Linked DNA regions of Homo sapiens: region 2 is linked to region 1. The links come from fine-mapping of genetic effects on gene expression. A gene starts in region 1. The other region holds a variant in brackets. All regions are shown on one strand. Distances are from middle to middle.

Region 1 (2,911 bases):
TACATCATAGCCGTAATGTTTCTATTTCTGGATTATAACAAAGGTGTTAAGTTGGTTTTCTTTGGTCTTCTCCCCTGTGTTTCTCTGCCATCTCTCGTTTCTTGTTTCTGCCCTGCCCGGCTGTGTGTCTTGTGCATTACGGTTATCCTACTCATCTTTCACCTGATTTAAAAAACTCATTCAGTCTAGGACTTAGAGTGTAAGTGTGTTCAAATAGTGTTAGGTTCACATAATGTCTAAAACTTTTAGTAGGAAAAATGCTACCTTGCCAATTTGTCTGTGTCTGAAAGGAATTTGCATTTAAAAATTTGGCAATTTGACAGAGGCAAATTTAAAATTTGAAAATATTTTCTTAAATATAGACTCATTTACAGATAGAAGGCAAGGGCAGGAAGTGATGGTGACCAGCGGTGCCTGAATGAACTCAGGAATGTAACTGTAGATCTAGGGTCCCAAACTTTAGGTTTCAAAGGATCTCTTGGAGTACTTGCTGAAAAATGTAGGTTCCTAAGTCCACTGCCAGAAACTCTGACTCAGTGGGTCAAGAATGGAATAACTAAACAATGGCCCCATGCAGTGGTTCATGCCTGTAATCCCAGCACGTTGGGAGGTTGAAGCAAGAGGATCACTTGAGGTCAGGAGTTCGAGACCAGCCTGGCCTACATGGTAAAACCCCATCTCTACTAAAAATACAAAAAAATTAGCTGGGCATGGTGGCATGCACCTGTAATCCCAGCTACTTGGGAGGCTGAGGCAGGAGAATTGCTTGAATCTGGGAGGTGGAGGTTGTAGTGGGCCGAGATTGTGCCATTGCACCACTGCACTCCAGCCTGGGCGATAAAGTGAGATTCTGTCAAAAAAATAAATAAATACATGAAAGAGAGAAAGAAAGAAAGAAAGAAAGAAAGAAAGAAAGAAAGAAAGAAAGAAAGAAAGAAGGAAAGAAGGAAAGAATAGAAAAGAAAAGAAAGAAAGAAAGAAAGGAAGAAAAGGAAAGAAAGAAATGCTGAATAAGATATAGAGACAACATACAGCTGGGCCAGCTTATGACATCTGATAGTGGGGAGATTTGGGGCTGGGTCCTGAATCTGAGGGTAATTAACTCCCTGTAACTTCTTTTCCTAATCTGTAAAAGGATAGTGACAGCGAGACATTGTGATGGGGTTAATATTTTGGAAAACATCCACATGTTTTTTTCCTTTGCCTTTCTGAGTGTGTCAACTACTTCCTACCTGTCCAGCCTAACACACAGGCATGTTGTCTTGGTAGGGATGGAGATCTGAGAAGGAGATTAGAATTTGTGTCTGAAGGTTTGCAAAGAGGAAGAAGTCGTCAATATTTAGATTCTGACATTCAAGATGGAATTATGTAGCAAGACCATTGCTATGAGACAGTATTTCTATTTTCCTTTATCCACTCCCACCCTGCCCTCTTCCCACCCTCACAGTAGCATGAGAAAAACCACATATGGAAGTTTCAGGTCATAAAAATTATCTTATAATTTAGAAAACAGGCCTTGTGCCTATGACAGCCAGGCCATGAGGCTTAGAGCTCTGTGGTAGAATGAGGATATGTTAGGGAAAAGCAAAGAAAATCCCTCCCCTCTTTGGCTGAGGACATTATCAAAAGGAGAGCAAGAAAGAGAAGAGAGAAATGGGCTTGAGGTGAGTGCAGATAAGGGGTGCATGGATCCTGAGGGCAAGGAGAGGAGCTTCTTTCAGTTTCCCTCCTTTCCAACGACTACTTTGAGACAAGAGCTGTCCCTGGGCAGTAGGAAAGGGGAGGGACAGTTGCAGGTTCAATAGATGTGGGTGGGGCCAAGGCCACAGAACCCAGAAAAACAACTCATTCGCTTTCATTTCCTCACTGACTATAAAAGAATAGAGAAGGAAGGGCTTCAGTGACCGGCTGCCTGGCTGACTTACAGCAGTCAGACTCTGACAGGATCATGGCTATGATGGAGGTCCAGGGGGGACCCAGCCTGGGACAGACCTGCGTGCTGATCGTGATCTTCACAGTGCTCCTGCAGTCTCTCTGTGTGGCTGTAACTTACGTGTACTTTACCAACGAGCTGAAGCAGGTCAGTGCAGTGCAGTGCACTCAGTCTTCGAGGCGCTTAGCAAATGTCTGGTTACCTGCTTCTTTGCATGTCAGCTTGCCCCTCTCTGAAGACTTTCCTGCTTCCTTTCTCTGTGGGTACACTCTAACTGCTAAATCACATAACAACTGAGGTCTTTGCAAAACTGTAAGTTCAAGAAATTGTGTAAACTAAGTGCAGTTACACAACTGGCTTCACTAGTTACTAGCAGATGTGGGCAACAAAACTCCTGAGGGATTTTTTGTTTTTAAAAGTATGTGTATTTTATAATATCAGCCATTGCAACTCTTCATGAAAGCTTTCTGCTAAATGCTTTGTAGTTCTTTTGTTTTCCTTTTCCAAACTTTTATTTGTGCACATTCAATTGAAAAAGATAATTTTTACAGGTTCTTTGGTGCCCATTTTCAGCATACAAAAATGTAAAAGACTATTCACAGATAAAACACATTAGCTCAAAATGGAAAAAAATAACAATGACAACAATAAAACAACCTAAGGTAGTGCACACTGTGACAGCTCTGCTTATGGGGACATGAGAATTCCTGCGAAAATAAATAGAATGTCCTTTTGTAAAAGCAGCAATGACATGTCTTGTAAACTTCCTTTTTTATATTATAACAAGGTTTGGAATAAAATCCAAAGGGACTGGAGCTTACACTGTAGCCATGAATAAATAAAAGAGTCTATTTCCTCAATTACCGTTGGTTCAGTTTTCCTTTTGAGTCCAATGTGCAGCAGGTTTTAAAAGGTGCACAGTAAGAGATTCTAACCAATTAAGTGGTGAATGATAAAATTTCTTTCCTGCTTTCAAAC
Region 2 (2,918 bases), 56 kb before region 1:
TAACATATGGGTATCAGCATCTCTAGACTCACATTCTGCCACTTAAGCTATACTTAGAAACAATAATCTTCTTTCTCAGAAAAATTCAAGCTGCTACCTCGATTGATAAACTGCAGCCACTTGTGCATGGCTTAAACAACTTTAGTCCATTGTTTCCAAAATTATATTTGCATGTCACTGGTGCTCCCTGAGATGATCTGGTAGTAAGCAAACATTTATTATAATACATGCCAGGGGCTAGAGGGGAGGGACGGATAAATAGGCAGAACATGGAGGATATTTAGGGAAGTGAAATTATTCCGATATTATATTGGTGAATGCATGCTGTTTTACATTTGTCACATGTATAATTATGTGTAAATTTTTATGCATAATAAAAAATAAGTAGTGCCTCAAAATTTTTTTTCTTTTGCTTGGGATGAGGCTGAAATAGGAAGGAAAGTAGTATTCATTTTACAGGATTAGGGTGAGTTTCAGATATGGTGATCAGGCATGTTCATGATCATTTTGTACCTTTACGAATCGAATTATCAAACAAGACTTAACCTGTTCCATGTAGTTGAAGTGCTGTACAGGCAGAAAAAATCTAGTCACTGTTGTATACTGAGGGGAAAATCTTAGGTTAAGTCCCTCAAAGATTCTGGAAAAATTTCATATGGTAATTCATAAGGCAATTTTTGAAAGGAAGTCAATATGTCACAAATTGAATGTAACTTTGAAAATCTTTACCCTACTTTGGAAAAAAGTATCATTTTAGTATAACATAAAATGAACTACATGACTGTCCTCTCCATGGTTAAATTCCTTGTCTGCCAACATTATATAACTGACTTTTGTTTCTTCTGATTTGTTTTCATGCAGTTAATTTTCAAGAGGAAGAGCTTCCTTCCTAAATTTGATTCAAATCTATTCCAGGAACAAACAGAAGCTTAAAGTTTCTTTTCACAGTTTCTTTTAAGGCGCCACTTTTGTTTCTCTGTGGTTTCATTATGAGAAGTAACTCAAAGTGGAAGAAGATTGTTGTAATGTATTGCATTTCTATACTTGAGAGAGTTTTTAAGTTCTTCAGATAAGTATGGTATGTGGTTGCAAGGTAATTTTCACTTATTTGCAATAATACAAATTTGTGAATTTCTGTTATTTGTTAGCTACACAGTTTATAGTATTTTGTTACAGCAGGCCCAACAGAATAAGAGAGACAATAAGCAGATTCTGGGAAAATGGCAGAGTAGGAAGAACCAGGAATCTCTCTCCTGACCTACCCAACTAATGCAGTGGCAGAATATGACTTAACTATCTTGGAACTCTGGAGTAATCTAAGGTTCACAATTTCCAGAGGAAGGCTTAGGTTGTGTATTAGTTTGTTCTTAC[G/C]CTGTTATGAAGAAATACCTGAGACTGGATGATTTATGAAGGAAAGAGGTTTAATTGACACACAATTCCACATGGGTGGGGAGGCCTCAGGAAACTTATAATCATGGTAGAAGACAAAGGGGAAGCGAGGACCTTCTTCACATGGTGGCAAGAGAGAGAAGAGTGAAGGAAAAACTTCCAAACACTTATAAAACCATCAGATCTTGCGAGAACTCACTATCATGAGAACAGCATGGGAGAAACTGCCCCCATGATCCAATCACCTCCCTCCCTTGACATGTGATGATTACAGGTGCTTCCCTCGAGGTGTGGGGATTACAGTTTGAGATGAGATTTGGTGGGGACACAGAGCCAAACCATATCATTCCACCTCTGGCCCCTCCCAAATCTCATGTCTTTTCACATTTCAAAACCGATCATGCCTTCCCAACAGTCCCTCAAAGTCTTAACTCATTTCAGCATTAACTCAAAAGTCCACAGTCCAAAGTCTCATCTGAGACAAGGCAAGTCTCTTCCACCTATAAGCCTGTAAAATTGAAAGCAAGTTAGTTACTTCCTAAATACAATGGGAGGACAGGCCTTGGGTAAATGCTCCCATTCCAAATGGGAGAAATTAACCAAAACAAAGGGGCGACAGGCCCCATGCAAGTCTGAAATCCAGCAAGGCAGTCCTTAAATCTTAAAGCTCCAAAATGATCTTTTTTGACTCCATGTCTCACACCCAGGACACACTGATGCAAAGAGTGGGCTCCCATGGCCTTGAGTAGCTTCTTCACAGGCTGGCATTGAGTGCCTATGGCTTTTTTAGGTGCACGGTGCAAGAAGGAGGTGAATCTACCATTCTTGGGTCTGGAGAACAGTGACCCTCTTCTCACAGCTCCCCTAGGCAGTGCCCCAGTGGGGACTCTGTGTGGGGGCTCCTACCCCATATTTCCCTTCCACACTGCCCTAGCAGAGGTTTTCCATGAGGGCTCTGCCCCTGTAGCAGACCTCTGCCTGGCCATCCAGGCATTTTTATACCTCCTTTGAAATCTAGGCAGACATTCCCAAACCTCAATTCTTGACTACCATGTACCCACAGGCCTAACACTACAGGGAAGCTGCCAAGGTCTGGGGCTTGTACCCTCTGAAGCCACAGCCTGAGCTGTACATTGGCTCCTTTTAGCTATGGCTGGAGCTAAAGTGGCTGGGATGCATCATACCAAGTCCCAAAGCTGCACACAGCAGTGGGGGCCTGGGCCTGGCCCAATAAATCATTTTTAACCTCCTAGGCCTCCAGGCCTGTGATGGGAGGAGCTGCCGCCAAGATCTCTGACAGGCTCTGGAGATATTTTCCCCATTGTCTTTGTGATTAACATTGGGATCCTCATTACTTATGCTAATTTTTGCAGCCAGTTTGAATTTCTCCCCAGAAAATGGGTTTTTCTTTTCTACTGCATGGTCAGGCTGCAATTTTTCCAAACTTTTATGCTCTGCTTCCCTTTTAAACGTAAGTTCCAATTTCAGGTCATCTCTCTCAAGTTCAAAGTTCCACAGAAATCTAGGGC

The links. PIP is the estimated chance that this variant, and not a neighbour inherited with it, causes the effect.
Region 2: its variant is the best candidate, but not a certain one, in a credible set for the expression of TNFSF10 in CD4 T cells (BLUEPRINT, PIP 0.71).

The regions. Positions count from the first base shown.
Region 1 is chr3:172,522,422-172,525,332 of GRCh38, reverse strand. TNFSF10 (TNF superfamily member 10) reads left to right here and starts at 1,903. Exons shown (of 5, transcript NM_003810.4): 1 at 1,903-2,080. The coding sequence starts at 1,949. It also overlaps the pseudogene TBPL1P1. RefSeq lists an enhancer at 1,922-1,971.
Region 2 is chr3:172,578,899-172,581,816 of GRCh38, reverse strand. All of the region lies in intron 2 of LINC02068 (long intergenic non-protein coding RNA 2068), which reads left to right. Among named protein-coding and RNA genes, the nearest start is that of LINC02068, 15 kb to the left of the region's middle. The variant G/C (reference allele first, on the strand shown) is at 1,372.